2 separate regions of the Homo sapiens genome follow, and region 2 is linked to region 1. A link means that fine-mapping ties the variant in region 1 to the expression of a gene that starts in the linked region. Tissue or cell type: whole blood. Region 1 holds a variant in brackets; the other region holds the start of a gene. All regions are shown on one strand. Distances are from middle to middle.

Evidence for each region. PIP is the estimated chance that this variant, and not a neighbour inherited with it, causes the effect.
Region 2: it holds the start of APOL3, and the variant in region 1 is fine-mapped to the expression of APOL3 in whole blood (TOPMed, PIP above 0.99).

Annotation. Positions count from the first base shown.
Region 1 is chr22:36,129,525-36,137,628 of GRCh38, forward strand. No RefSeq gene overlaps it. Among named protein-coding and RNA genes, the nearest start is that of APOL3, 27 kb to the right of the region's middle. RefSeq lists enhancers at 2,452-2,952, 4,679-5,878. The variant G/A (reference allele first, on the strand shown) is at 4,265.
Region 2 is chr22:36,157,386-36,165,489 of GRCh38, forward strand. It overlaps APOL3 (apolipoprotein L3), which reads right to left and starts at 3,370. Exons shown (of 4, transcript NM_145639.2): 1 at 3,284-3,370. RefSeq lists enhancers at 4,289-4,862, 4,814-4,973.

The sequences.
Region 1 (8,104 bases):
GAGCACAAGGAAGAGGCTGGGACAGGGGGAGGATGAACTTGGAGAAGCCATGACTGGAAGCCTGTGTCCCATGGCATTGTCATCTGTGTGTGTGCCCCATCTTGACTTTGAGCTCCACACAGGACAGGACTCTGACTCATCTTTGTTATAGATCTCAGTGAGTGCAAGGCACGAAGAAGAAGGGGTGTCAATGAGTGCTTCATAAATGAATGATTGGATGAATGAATGAATCATCTGTTTCTCCACTTCCATTCTGTGGTCTCCGGCCAACATTCCCTCCCATTTACCTCTCATTAAACTCTTTTTGCAGCAGCACTTTCTCTTAGTTCTTCCTGTCATTTGCTAGACTTCAGCTTTGTGATCTTTGGGTCAGACACCATGATGAGAGATGCAGATCGCAACTGAGCGTCATTTAAATATTCAGAAGAGCTGAGGCTCCGCAGGCTGAATTCTGAATATGCAGATAATTCAGAAAACACTGGAGCAATAGACTTGTTGAATTCAAACTCGAGGTGGAGCAGACGAGGGTACAGCTCGGCTTAGGTGACCCATCGTCCCCATCAGCTGCTCCTTCCCAAAGCTACGGCTCCCTCGGCCTTTGAGCTTTCAAGCCTCAGCCTCGTGTGTTGCTTCAGTGGCAGCTGGAACATTCCTCCCTGCAGCCTGCTCCTCAGACGCTTATCTCACCCCATAGGGCCCTGCTCCATCTCAGTCTTGGATGGGGTTAGCAGTGTTTTCTGGATCAAAGTAGCTTCTTTCCTTGTGCTGTATTTAAACTTTGTGGCGTAGGCATCAGTTTCCCTAATGCCTCTGTTATCCATCTTGCAGGTCTACAGTATTGAGAGACAGAAAGTCAAGAAGTTCTGGACCTGCCAGGAATTCCCACTGTGGAAACAAATCCACCCTCCTTACTTCCTGGAGAGGGGCAATTCCTTCAGGAAGGTCTTCCATGAGCCTTACATCAGACTTTGTCCTGAACTCCACCCACAGCTCCCCTGTCTGAGCGTGTCCCATTTTCTCTGGACCTCTTTCATCTCCAGTCCCAGACCAGCATCCTCCTGCATGTGCTTCTGAAAGTACAGGCCACTCCTGCATCCCTTCTATACCTGGGTCGCCAGGAAACTCACGGATCCACTTTTGACGCAGTCTGTTCTGCTCTCCCTTCTCAAATCTGCCCAGATCTCAGCTGTCCCCCATGGTCCTTATCAAACTCCCATCTACAGCCTCTAGAAAGTGACTTCTGATCATTTCCTCTATCGTGGCCCTGAATGGCAGTCACATGTACCCTTCATCTGTTTGGCTCTTGCCCCCTGCCAGACCCAGCAGCAATTCCATGCCCCTGTCTTTCTGGATCTCAGCTCGAGAGGAGTTTGAGGTGCGTGGCTTGATTTTCGCCCATCATTCTGTCCTGTCTGGCTTGCATGCCTTACCTTTTCTTCACAGGAAATCCCATCATTCAATCCACATGTTGCTTTTCCATGTACCAATATTAGATTTTCCTAGTGATTCTTTTCTGATAGTAAGTCCCAAATCTGTCTTTTAGCCAATCTTATCCCTCCCTGATCCTCTGAGAAACCAGACTCCTAGATACGGACCTTTCAAATGCTTCTTTGCTTCTGGGCTTTTAATAATCCCCCTGAGATTATTCACCAGCTAAAGGATGGTGGGGACAGAACAGCACTTGACTGATAAAGGCCCCCATCCTCCTGGTCTGTCACTCTCACATCCCACCGTTCCCTGGGGTACCCCCTGGAGGCCAGCACACGACCTCTCCAGATCCCTGTTGACACCACTTGTTGGGGAAAGGCAGCTCGAGCATCCCATGGACATCCGTCTGAAAGGTTGGCCCCAATCTGGTTCCTTCCTTGATGGAGGACGACATTAAAAGAAGACAAAGGAGAGAATTTGGGGTGACTGATCTATTGCTGCTTAGGCCAAGTCTAACCATTGAAAGTCTCCAAATCTCACACCTAAGGGTCCCTAGCTCTTGTAGAACACCACAGAGATTTTCCAGTTCAAGGTTTTGGTCTATCACACGATGGGAGAAAGCTGGCAAGAAGAAAACAAGCTGTGGGAATCAACAATTGTTTTACTCACCAAAGATTAGGAAGCCTGAATAACAACATCACCTCTTTTGAGTACAGCCTCACATAGAACTGAACTGAATAGAAATCATCTCATTTTACAATCATCAGACATCTGTCTTTGCCCCAGTCCTGGCTGCTGCACCCTCACTACGAGCCCTGGATTGCCACGTCGTCCCTTGGTTCCCAAATCCTAGCCCGTGGATATACATTTCTTATCCTAAGAGTCACCCTACTATGTGAGGGTTCTGGGAGCAGCTTTGTTCCTGGGAATCTGCAGGCACCTTCCTGCCTTCCTGCTGTGGTCGCCAGGCACAAGGAAAGAAAGAAGGGTCTCGCTTATTACAGTAGGGAAAACATGCGATGAATTCTCTTCTAACCCTGGTGCAGAAATTCTCCTAATGAGTCCTGGGGTGAAACGCAGGCCTGGAAGCGAGGTGAGGCTCCTCCCCACCAGCATCTAAAAAGCCGGCTCCCTGGAGCCACAGGATTTTTCCAATCAGCCATGGGACCAGGGCAGCCCACCAGCCTCCCCAGCTGCCAGACGCTGGTAGAGAGACCTGAGACAGAGGGCAGGTGAATGGAGCGGGAGAGGAGGAGAGAAGGGACACCAGATGGGGTCTGAGGAAGAAAGAAGGAAGAAAAAAAGATACCTTGATGGGGAAGGGGAAAGCCTTAATCTGCTTCTCAATCGCGAAGTAGGTCTGCTTCTCAATCATGCAGTAGGGAGTGAAAAGCACAGGTGGGGCTTTTGAGGCTCAGGCACTCCACCCACCAGGACAATGCGGACCCCATGACTGCAGAGCCTAGGCTCTGCAGGGAGCAGCTAGGGAGACACTAGTAAGGGAGGTGGGCAGGGGGCAGAGGCCCCTTTCCCCCACTGCTCCCACGGGGATGAGGAGGGGGCTTCCGAAAAGGCCCAGGTTAGGGGGCCTGCCTGCTCAGCTCACATCCCCCTGGTGTGACAGTGCCTTCTTTACTCTGTCCTCTAGCCCCCGGGACCCATCTGAGTCTCTCCCCTGGAAATTGGAGGACCTGAAAGAAAACCCTTGGAGGCAGCAGGCAGTGGAGCTGAGGCCTTGAGTGTAGCTCGTTCCCTACCGCTGAGAGCCCTGAGGCTTTCTGGGTCCCTGGTCTTCCCTAAGCCTGTTTTTAAAAAATGTGCACGCACGCCCACCCACCCAAGGATTTCTTTAATTCTGTGAGCTTTCTCTCTGGATCATTCAAATATATGCCTCCACTCTTGAGGTAGCGGGAAGATTTTTTAAGATTTTTCATTTGTTTTTGTTTTTGCATTTGCTTTTGTCTTGGTTTTGCTTTGCTATGTTCTACTTGCATCCAAAGGGTCCTACCTAATAGAAAAATTGGCACCAAAGGGTTGGTTGCAGACCACAAAGCCTCAGGATAATTGGTACAGGTAGAATCATGTTTTGTGTTGAGAGGTGGACAGAGCAATAGTGAACCCTTCTCACCCCCCTCATTCTGGGGAGCACCTGCTCTCAGCTTGTGGAAAGGGGACAAGGAATGCTGGGACATGAAGCAGGACCACTCACTTTGGACAAAGGCCTTTGACATTTCTCCTGAAGGCGTCCAATAAATTGTGGCTGTTGATATTTTTGGCTGACTCTCCTATGAAAAACAAATTCAGAAACCGTTTCTATAGGTTTCTGGTTACATGATGAATTTCATCCTCACTAGATCTTCTAAGCGCACATGAGGGCCCTGATGGGGACAGAGTGGTGTGCTAGTACCTCTCCTGCTGTAACAAAGCCCTACAGACACAGTGACTTGAACCAACACAAAGTTGTTCTCTTCCAGTAGAGTTCTAAAATCAAGGCATGGGTAGAGCTGCATTCCTTGGGGAGGCTCTGGGAGAAGCAATTCCCTTACCTTTTCCAGCTTTTAGAGGCACCTGCTGTCCTCAGCTCCTGGCTTCTCCCTTCGTCTTCAAGCCAGCCTTGTAGCATCCTCTGATCTCTCTCAGTTTCTCTCCCCTTCTATCATCTCATCTCCTTTTCTCCCTCTCACCCTACTGTCTCCGCCTTATAAGGACCCTTGTGGATACCTTGGGCCCACCCAGATAATCGCAGATAACCTCTCATCTCCAGATCCTTGACTGGATCACACCTGTGAGGTCCCTTTTATGATGGAAGGTGACATAATCACAAGTCCTATGATTA[G/A]GACACCCACATCTGTCAGGGGCTGTTATTTAGCCTAACACAAGATGTATTCAGAAAATTGCAATAGGGATACCTGAGGGGAATTGAAGGATCCCAACTCCAAGCCGCATCTAAGGATGCTTCCGAGGTGCAGCTCCCGCTGGAGGACTCTGCTCCATCTCTCTTCCTGTCTGCCGCTGCCTGCCTCTCTGTTTCTAGACAGCCAGTGTTCAAGTCAGTATGGCCTTGAGAGTGAACTGCAGAATGGAAAGGAGTGAGATGCTGCAGCAGGAGAAAGAGCTCGCTGTCAAAGCTCCGAAGAGCTGAAGACCATTTATTTGCATGGTGGGGTCTGACGGAGGTCGGCAAGGAAGAGGAATCATCATTTGGTTTCCTTGCCATGGTCATCCTCAGCTGGCACGGTTTGCTCCAGCAGCAGGCTGGGATTCCAGCTGTGCCCAGTGTTAGCCATGCCACCCTCAACTAAATGCTGATCACTTCTTTGTGACATAAAAAGCCAGAAATTAGTTGGCATGATGAAGAAGAAGGAGGACTCAAAGTGTGTAGGAGGCTGAAATGCTAGATTTGATTTCTCAAGCACTTCCTGCCCACGCTGTTTCCTGCCAGGGCCCAAAAGATTTCCCGCTCCTTTAACGAGAAGAGTCAATGGATAACCAGGAACTCTCTATAATAGGGGAGGGGCTGGGACTCTGGTCTCTTTAGGGTGGGAGAAATTCCAAGAGGCCGACTGTAGGGGAGGCAGGTAACTGCCAGAAGAAAAGAGAGTGCGGGCGCCAGGTCACGCACCAGGAGGGCGCATGATCATGGCTCAAGGGACATTTGATAGGAACAAGGTTCCAAAATAGAGCTGGAAGACAGTCCACTGACTTTACAAAACCCCCAATCTGGTGAGTGGATACCTGTCACAGGTCATCAGGCTGGATAGTCCCTGCTTGTCACCCAATTCTTAGGCCTGGGTCAGAGGGGGAGATTATAGGGCACAAGTAATTAGTGAATATCTATATTCGTTTACCTTTGATTAAGTCCATCAGGGTCCCACCCTCACCTGGTCATCATTTTTCAAATTCCTGGGTGGATAACTGGAAAGAATACTCTTGGAAGCTTCAGATTGTTCACCCAGACCCACGGACGGGGACTATTTCAGTGACATACGCCAGTGGAGGCCATTGGTTTTACATACCTGCCTAAATATTTTACTCAAAGTCAACACCAACTTCATGGAGGAGTTACAGAGGCAGTTACAGAGATTTCTGCCATCATCAAGATTTAAAGGGAGCAGAAGCAGTGATTCCTGTGACTCACCTGTTCACCTCTCCAGTGTGGCCAGTCGTCAACAGGGAAACAACTGTTTGTTTTCCAACCGCAGAACAAAGTAGGAAGCTCATCAATGGAAGTTGCCATTCCTAAGTTGTTCTTGTTAATGAAGCAAATAAACACAGCCTGCAGCTCTCAGTCTGTATCAATCAGGCTTCTTGGTCGAGCAGAGGTACCAACTCTGTTTTCTTAGGGCAGAAAACAACATGAAATTCACTGGAATGATACCAGAAGAACCCCACGTGTGTAGGAGGCTGGAAATTGGCTTGGAAGATAAATAGAAGCCAAGACAGTGAGACGGTATCGAAGGCTGCGAGCACAAGAGCCCTGCTTTGTGAGGAGTGACACGGCCACAGCGCTGCCCCGCCACCTGCGGACGTCATCTCTGCTGGTGCAGGACTCGGTCGTCCCCGTCTCTATTCCCCTCCCGGGCAGTCCTGCTGCTCTCACTGAGAATGGATTCTAAGCACCCTGGGCTTTGCCTCACTTGCTCCAGATTCAGGATCCCATGTGGAAGCAGCCAATTAGCCAGCCTAGGTCTTGTCCAGAAGCCCTGGATGCCAGGGTGGGGGTGGACAGAGAGTCATCTATTCTCTTGGGCATTACATAGAAGGTGGGACCAGTCTTTCTCTATGACTCCACATGCTGGGAAACCCCACAAAACTAGGAAGAGGCGAATAGATGCCAATCAGCTCCCTCCCAGGAAACTGGGAGTTCATTCCACCCAGAGGCCTAAAATGTTGACATGCCGTCTTTGAGTGTAGAGGGAAGGAAGCTAACTCCAATTCGCAAAATGACTAAATAGAGATAAATGACTGACAGCTCAGAAAAGACCATGAGGGCTGAATTCAGGTGCTTACACAGAGTCATGAGTACTCAGCATCTCTCAAATTGTGCTGTGCTTTCCGCCTGGCCCACCTGCTCCCCCCAGGTCTGGCCTGCTGTGGAACGCCTCTCAAGGACGGTTCCTGAAGAGCAATGGAGCACACCTCACAGTCCAGGCTGCCTGGAAGGAGCTGCATCCTCGGACCAGGATCTGCATTGTTTCCTGGGTAACAACTAAGGAATTAGCTGGAATTTCAACATTTTAGAAGGAATAAATCTGGAGGCTTGGTGACAAAGATTTTTAGGGAAGAGGAACATACATAGAGCTTTCAGAACAACGGTAGAACTAAAAAAAAATCTGTCCCATGTGAATGCTCATTGGAAGATGTCCACCATCAAAAAAGACTCTTTTTTTTTTTTTTTTGAGACTGGGTCTCACTGTATCGCCCAGGCTGGAGTGCAGTGGTGCAATCTCGGCTCACTGCAACCTCTGCCTCCCAGGTTCAAGCAATTCTCGTGCCTCAGCCTCCAAAGTAGCTGGGATTACAGGCACCCGTCACCATGTCTGGTGGCTAGTTTTTGTATTTCTAGTAGAAATAGGGTTTCACCATGTTGACCAGGCTGGTCTCCAACTCCTGACTTCAACTGATCCACTCGCCTTGGTCTCCCAATGTGCTGGGATTACAGGCGTGAGTCACCATGCCTGGCTCAGAGGCTGTTAATAAACAAGGGAAGAAGTCACTCTTTAAGGCTCAAATCTCCTCTGTTCCCCAGGCAGCCTGACATTTTCAGAATGGGCTCATTAACCAACTTGCCTAATGTGGAGCTCTATGTAACCACACAACACGGACCCCACTCATCAAGGCTGACCACTTGGCACCCAGTGAATCTCAACCCCGGAAATGACAGCCTTAGGTCCCATGGAAATGGCCCAAAGGGGACTCAGCTCCATATCAGAGGCTGGGAGCTGCCCTTAGGATGTGATATGTTTTGAATCCATACCCAGAATTTTCCCCATTTCCTGTAATAGCCAGAATTCATGGAGCTGGGCAGTCAGAGGTTAAGATGAGGGTGATAGCTCTATGGTTACCCACAATAAACCACTTTCAAAAATTTTGTTTATGATACATACTCCTAACTCACAGACTTTTAGGTCTGGAAGTTTCAGTATCTAAGGTTGACAAAAGTTGTTTCAGCAGAAACCATAGCTGGCTTCTCATGCTCCCTGATGTAGGGATAGCAATGACGTCACTGGGTTGGATATAATCATGCATCATGTTCCTCCAGGGAAGCTCATGTTGTTATTACACAGCAGGACAGGAGGAATTGAGGGATCCCCTAGGATTGCTCCTTGTAATACTCTAAAGTGTTAGAGTATTAGTGTAAATGTGAATAGGAAATTTCACCAACTTACTGAGGCCAGACCATCAAGGAGCTTAGACACCACGAGAATGACTTTGCCCATAAGTAAGAGGAACATTGAGTGGAACAATTCAAGACTTCTGATGGTGGCAGCAATGGTCAGTAGTGGCTGTAGCCTTGACCGTACCTCTTTATTTTCTACAAATATACACACACAAAAATTCTGAGACAGAAGCTGCCAATGGACCAAAAGAAAAATTGATCGTGTGCTGAGGCCCTCCTCCTGTGACATAACTTCAGCATGCAGAAGGTGGAGATGCTGTGTGTGGCTCTCACTGG
Region 2 (8,104 bases), 28 kb after region 1:
TAGGTACCCATGAAATAGGTCCTACATTTAAAAGAAGAAGAAACAAATTCTTCTCCAAAAATAAGTAAATCAATCCCAAAGGGATCTAAGTGTACCCCAGAAAGAAAAAATTAAAACTATACTAGAAGAAATGTTAAAAACAATGTTGAGTTGGGAAGACCTTTCGAATCAAAACTCAATTCCCAGAAGACTTAAAGGGAAAATTGAATAGAGTTTTACCTCTTACAAATTAAAAATTAGAAAGAACATCATTCAAGAGCCAGAATAAAATGAAAGAATAGGAAGCACGGTTTGCAATACTTAAAGCAAAGGTAACTGTCCACAATCCACAAGAAATGCTCAAATCAACATGAAAAGACTGAAATCAAGTTTCTAAAAATATAGCCAGGTGCGGTGGCTCATACCTGTAATCCCAGCACTTTGGCAGGCCAAGGCGGGTGGATCACCTGAGGTCAGGAGTTCGAGACCAGCCTGACCAATATGGTGAAACTCTGACTCTACTAAAAATATCAAAATTTGCCAGGTGTGGAGGCACGCGCCTGTAGTCCTAGCTACTTGGGAGGCTGAGACAGGAGAATTGCTTGAACCCCGGAGGTGGAGGTTGCAGTGAGCTGAGATTGCGCCACTGCACTTCAGCCTGGGCAACAAAGCCAGACTCCATCTCATAAATAAATAAATAAATAAATAAAATTTAAAAATGGGTAAAAGATAGGATCTGAAGAAATAGAAATTAACGTTAACCATATGAAAAGGCACTCAAGCTCACTTTTGAACCATATATGTAAGTGATCACAGAGACATACGTTTTTGAAACATTAGATAAGCCAAACCTAAAGTGACTAATAATGTCCACTGTTAGGGAGGTAAAGGTGGCACAAGCCCCTTCACTGTTGATGGAGTGTGAAAGGTTCTGGTGTCCTGGAGGATCGTCAGCGATACTCAGCACACTTTACAAAGTGCCCCCACGTCATGGCACAGCACCCACTCCTAGGTCTCAGCCTCCAGGGAGCAGAGGGCAAGTGTGCAGGGACAGGGGCTTTAGAGGGTGCCATGCAGCGTTGTTTCTATCACCAAAAAGGGAGAAATCACTAAATCTCCTGCCATAGGGAGTAGGCGGGTCCCTAACACTATGCCCATTAAGACTAAGGAATGCGCCTGGCACGGTGGCTCATGCCTGTAATCCCAGCACTTTGGGTGGCGGAGGTGGGTGGATCACAAGGTCAGGAGATCGAGAACATCCTGGCTAACATGGTGAAACCCCGTCTCTACTAAAAATACTAAAAATTAGCCGGGCGTGGTGGCACGCCTCTGTAGTCCCAGCTACTCAGGAGGGTGAGCTGGAGAATCACTTGAACCCAGGAGGCGGAGGGTGCAGTGAGCCGATGGTGCTACTTGCACTCCAGCCTGGGCGACAGAGCAAGACTCCGTCAGAAAAAAAAGACTAATGAATGCGATGCCTCCCTTAAAGAAATGAGGAGGAAAAGAAGCTGCACAGAATCAAAGACCCTTCGAGGCCACGACACAGAGGTGAGAAACACAGGGCTCCATGAAGTGAAATCTGAATAGCAGGTGTGAGTGTGCGTGTGTGTGTGTGTGTGTGTGTGTGAATTTGTGAGTGTGTGTGTGGCATATGCAAGGTTTGCCTTTTATTTGGTTGCCAGCATGTCAAATGTAATTGCACCTGAGTTTATAGCAAATGTTCCGTCATCTGAGCTCTGAGGAGCCAGGCCCACCCTCTCACCTGCTGGGCATCACCTGGATCTGAGAAGCCCATGCAGGCCTCCAGCTCTCCCCACTTTCCTGCAGCCCCTGCAGGCATCTGGGCTGCAATGTCAACTTTCCCCTGACTCGCACTGCCCCGCCTCCCACCTCACCCCAGATGGGGTCAGCAGCCTGCTGGGGGTCAGCAGGGTAGGGCATCCTAACCCCCTAAGGCAGGTGAAAAACCCTGAGGCTCAGAGAGGGGAAGTGACTTCCCCAGTGTCACACACCTCTTGGAGGGCAGGGGGAAGGTCAACACCTGACCTCCTGACTCTGACATTGAAGCAAGAAAGTATAATGTTAATAATCCAAAATCTTCCAGGTTTGTTTCTGCTTCTACAAACACAGAGGGCTAAGCTCACGCTCCCACAGTTATGCTCACGCTTCCACAGTTTGACTTTTAATCTCATGATTGTCAAGCTGGGATCATGTGGCAGACACCATTCTGCAACATGCCGTTCTCACTGCCCCTGTCTGGGCCATCTTTCCCACTAGGGAACAGCACAGCTTCTTTCTTCTCTATCACCCAGAGGCCTGAAAAGGAACCAGGTGAGTGTCAGGGACATGGAGTCCTGTGATCTACCTGCTCAACTTCCTGACATGGGACCCTCAGCGAGTCACTCATCTCCCATGGCCTCAGTTTACCCACAGGGCCTGGCTCAAGTAGGTGCTCAGAGTCAGGGTGGGTGAAACAACCTCTGGGTTCCTTGTTATCTCTTTTCGCTCTCTCTCTCTTTTTTTTTTTTGAGACAGAGTCTCACTCTGTCAGGAGTGCACTCAGGCTGGAGTGACTGGTGCGATCTCGACTCACTGCAACCTTCATCACCTGGGTTCAAGTGATTCTCATGCCTCAGCCTCCCAAGTAGCTGGGATTACTGGCTTGTGCCACCACGCCCAGCTAATTTTTTGTATTTTTAGTAGAGGCAGGGTTTCTCCATATTGGCCAGGCAGGTCTCGAACTCCTAACCTCAAGTGATCTACCCGTCTCGGCCTCTCAAAGTGCTGGGATTACAGGCATGAGCCACCGCGCCCAGCCAGGTTCCTTGTATCTCAAAGGAAATCCTCTGTCCCCATCGGGCCTCAGCAGCAGCACCCTGGGGCCAGCCTCAGGGTGGCCAGGCCACAAGAAGGACAGGCCAGGCTCTGGATCACCTCCTGTCCTCCACCTTCTCTGGTTCCTCCAAATATTCTAAAGGAATGGACAGTCCCAACATCTGCCTTCCTTCTGGGGTCACCGGGCCATGTCTCACGCAGGCTGGAACTAGAGCTGAGCCCTAGGAAGCTTTGTGAACCCAGCTGAGCTGATTCTGCCTCTGTCTCTACTGTTTGGGGGCCCAGAGAGAGGGAGGGAGAAGTCCAGCTAAAACCTGGGTGCAAATTCAGGCTCTGCCATGGACCGAGATGTGACCTCAGTCAGTTACCTAACCTCTCTGAGCTCATCTACAAAAGGTGAATGACCCTTCTCTTATAGAGCTGCTGTGAGGATGGGGAGATGGGGAAGGTCAGACCACCCCTAACTTACCAAGGAAGCTTCTCTTGAAAGAGTGTGAGCAAGATCCAGCTGTTCTGAGCTGTGTGGATCCCACCTCCAGCCGTGCATCTGCATAATAACCAGACACGTTCTCCAGGCTCTGAGATATACCCTGGAACCCAAAAGGGAAAGTGAAAGTCACAACTTGGCAGCAGCTCCTGATCAAACATGCAAAACAGGATGCTTCCCAGCCCCACCCTTGGCCCAGTCCCATCCTTGGTCCAGCAGCACCCTTGGTCCCACCCTCCTGCTGATCCAAGAGCAGCCCCAGACGTCCTTCTTGGCCAACCCACCTGCCTCCCATACTTAGGGTTGGGGGTTTGCTGTGTCTTCAGGAAGAAAGACCTACCACTGAAAGACTATGAGACCCTCCAGATTACTCCCCACCCCCAATAACACCACACTCCCCAGATGCCCACCTCACTCCCTCCATGCCATCAGCATTACCACAGTCCATCACACATGCCGGGTGGACGCTTATTGCATATTGATTGTATTGCTGTTGGGGTTATTTTGTTGTTTTGTTTTGTTTTGTTTTTGAGATGGGGTCTGGCTCTGTCACCCAGGCTGGAGTGCGGTGGCACAATAATAGCTCACTGTAGCCTCAAATTCCAGGGTTCAAATGAACCTCCTGAGTAGCTGGGACTACAAGCATGAGCCACTCGGCCTGGCTACTTTTAAAAAATGATTTTGAAGGGGTGAAATCTTACTATTTTTACCAGGTTGGTTTCAAACTCTGGCCTCAAATGATCCTCCTGCCTCAGCATGAGCCACCGTTCCAGACCTGCTCTTGTCGAACGCCATACCTGTGTGGCTTCTGGACACTTCCTTATGTGGGTTCTTCTGCCAGGAGCACCTGCTACCTTCACCTGGAAAAGTCACGCTCCTCTATCAGAATGCAAATCTAGCATTTCCTCCCCTGAGAAGCCCCCTAGCATCCTCTTCAGCAGAGCCCACTGCCCCATGTTCCACTCCTGTGGCACTTTTGTTAGGCTGTTGTAATTGGCCACAGTCCCAGGTTGACTGAACAAAGTGGGGGGCGGATGTGGGAGTAAAAGACAAAGACAAAAGAGTATATTAGGAAGAAGGGGTCAGGGGGTTCCTTGCTTCTAGTGAACAAGGGCTCTGAGCTTTTCAAGCTCTCTGAGTTTATTAGGTAAAAGAGATGACGAGAAAAAGGTGGGGGGGTGATTGTCAGGTAATTGTCAGTCAGCCGTTTGGTTCACAGCAGGCTTGCAAGACTGCATCCTTCAAATAATAGGTGCTAGATATCCCAACAGATAACTTCAAGGAGCCCAGCACCAGGGAGTGATGGCCCTCAGGAAACCTTCTGGCGGCGGGTGCAGTGTGAGTTTACCCACATCCCGCATTCATGATAAACAGTTTGCTGTTTGATCATATAGCCTCCAGTGAAATGCTGAGTTGGTCACAATCCCTTTGGCCTTTTCAGCTCCCAACAGGCAGTTAAGTAGACATTAGCAGCTGGGAGGAGAAAAGAGAGCAGAAAGCCTGTCACTGCAACAGCTCCTGGCCCACCTAAGTTCAGCCCCAGAGCCATTCTAAGACCCCCCTAACTGATGAAGTTGGTGGTATAGTTTGTGGCCAGCACATCCTGAAGAAAGAGAAACTAGGGCACAGGTGGAAATTCCCTAAAGGGGCACATGCCCAGTAACATGAAACTGTGCCCTCAGGTCACCCCAAGTTCATTATACCATCATTATAATAAAATGTGGTTTTATTATACAAAAGCCCCAGAGTGGGCTTTTCTGTGAAAATTATGGGTAAAAACATGCATTGCCTAATTTTAGTTATATAACCATAAACTGCCAATCAGATGACATCGTCCTTTACTCAGACACAGCCCCAACCTCAACTTCTCTCCACAAACCGCACAGAAGCACCTTAAACTCTATATAGAGGGGCTGACTTCACTTCACAGAAATTAGCCCACTGTCCCTCTGAGAGTGTCTAACTGTGCTTCAATACACTTTGCTTTGAGCTTGCATTTTGGAGTTAGCCTGCAATTGTTTGCTCACTCTCAGAAGAACTGAGATTACTGGTCCAGAACTCCAGCTCTGTTAATCTCCTCAGTTAAAGGATCCATCCCAGCGCAGAATTCCTGGTAATATCTTAGTGCTGTGACCTGGATGATTTACGTTCAGCATGGCTTTTAATATGTGCTTGATTTTAGCTTGGGGAACTGAAACATATTTTGCTAAAATGCTTCCTTTCGCTTTGGGTCAAGATGTTTGTGCTATGTTTCGCTGCTTGGCTAAGAGAAGTTGCAATGAGTGTTGTATTTGCTGCATTAGAGAGGGGGTATATCCCCCAACATGCCACCAATAACTTTTAGAGAAGGGCTTAGAGAAATCTTCTCTGGATTTAGGTTTAATTAGCTGTTTAACGTGATTAAACAACTTCATTAGGTTGTAGTGGCCATTGAAGCCCAGAGCTTGTTAACAGCCCAGGGAAGCTTTGAGAGGCAAAATGGTTTCTTATGCTCTGGCCACAGAGCCAGGAATCACCCTCAACTCCCTTTAGACTGGGCATTTTGGCTGGATGCAATTTTTAAAATTACTGATTAAGAGAGCCGATTGGGATTCAGATCATGGGATAGCTTGGATAAATGCTAAGTTTAGAGGTTTACAGCCGGGAACGAAGGGTAGGCCCATAGTGGGTCATAACCTTTGGAGAACTCCCCAAATCGTCCTCGCCCACCCTTTTGGGCACTCACCCCACCCGAGGCCCCCTCCCTGCCACACTGCCATAGGCAGCAGCACAGCTTCTGAAGATCGTTTTGCAATTTTTTTTCCTTTTTCTTTTGAACAGAGCTTCATTTCTTTTCTTTCTTTCTAACCACTTTTATTCAGAATCTAGGGGACAAATGTTTTCAGCAAGGCTGTAGTACCCACTGTAGGAAGGGGTCTCCATGCTGGGCACAGCCATGGTCCACACATAGGTACAACTTGAGAGACACACAGACTGCCCCAGGGGAGGCGGAGCCTCCATCTAAAGAGCAGGGGACACTCTCTCCTGGTAATGGTCAAGGATATTGGGATGTCGAGACTACCTTGATCTCAGTGCTGTGTATTCTGGATTGCCAGCTGCATCCACACTCCTATGTAAAACCACAGAGGGCTGCCCAAACTGATGATGTCTCCACAGACAAATACACTTGTGAGACTTTAGTGGACCTCAAGCCTCTCTTTAAAAGACTGCCAAAAAATAAGTAATGCCCACTGACTTTCCCTAGTGCCTTTTTTTAAATATTAGCTTTAAGTTGGATTGTTATAGTTATTCTCATATATTTGCAGTTCAATTGCCTCCTCCTGAATGGGTGAAATAATTTTTTATGCTAAAATAGCTGTTTTAAATGCAGTAACCAATATTTTTGCTTTTTAAACTAGATTAACCCTTGCAATCATTTCTCCTAATGTTTTTTTCCAACACCCATATTTAGCTACCATCAAAGAAGTTTTAAAACCTTGTTTAAACACAACATCAACGGACTGCACAACATCACAGAAACTGTTGAATCTGTGTTTACACCTTCCCTAGCAGAGGTCTATCAGCCATTTCCATTCCTGCTTCTGAGTGGAATCAATCAGAAACATTTCCAGCCCCCACTTCTGTTAACCGACCAGAATAAGCTGTCAATCCTAGGGTCGAGCCCACAGTCAATTGCATACTCCTTAAAAGTCTATACCAACAAACCTGTTACAACCTCCGAGGACCTGTCGTCTATCTGTAATACTATCTGACTAAGCACTCCTTTGTCTTCTATCTTCATTGAGGATGAGGCCATTACTTGGATTTTTTCCTAATATTTCCAAGGCTTGCAATCACACTTGTACCCTATTTTCCACCCAATTATGTGTCAGCTTAGTCACTGACAACAAAAAATGCAAACATACCTGATATTCTAATTCTTCTTTGTGTTTTATTCATTTCCCAAGCCCCCCAACAGAACCACTATGTGGAAAGAAGCCAGCTATTCTGGATCTACCCTTTTCCCCAGACCCACACCAGAATATCATTTTAAACATAACAACTTCTGGTTTCAGTCTCACAACTTCGGGCAAAATCATTGCAAAAAACTGCAGCTCCCCATAATTTCACAATATTGGTTGGGATCCCATCACTCCTTCCTCTAATTGGGCTTTTGATTCCTCTTTCATTCTGTCAAGTACTGCCTGTGTTCCCCCATTACATGAACTAGCCTTGACTTCCACTTCTGAGGGTATTAAAGCAGACTTACACAGCATGGAAAAACCCTACTTTAGTATCACTGTTGATATTTGTCTTAACATGACAAATCACATTTTTGTATAGAAACAAGGCATATCTCTGCTTGTCTGCTAATTAAACGGGGATTTGGCCCTAGTTTACATCATCCCCAAACTCACTCTTATCGATAGCATTCCCCTCCCTATACACGCTCAATCTGGTAAAACTGAAAGAGGAGTTTTAACAGCACTGACTATAATTGGCGTTCTGGCTGGTATTGGCACGGGAACTGGAGGACCTCCTTAACTCCATTTTTACTGCCCAGAAACTCTTCTTAAAAATTACTCAACAAATTATTAATCTAACTAACCAGGTCAATACCCTTTCAGAACAAATTGCTTCATTAGCAAGCATAGTCTTATGAAATTGATGAGCTTTTAATTTGCTCACAGCCAATCAAGGGGGAGCTTGTGCAACACTTGATAAACATTGCTGTTTTCATCAACCAATCAGGTAAAGTGCAAACCAACTTAAAAAAATTACAGACAGGGCCAACAAGTTAATGGAAAACAGAGTTTCAGGAGG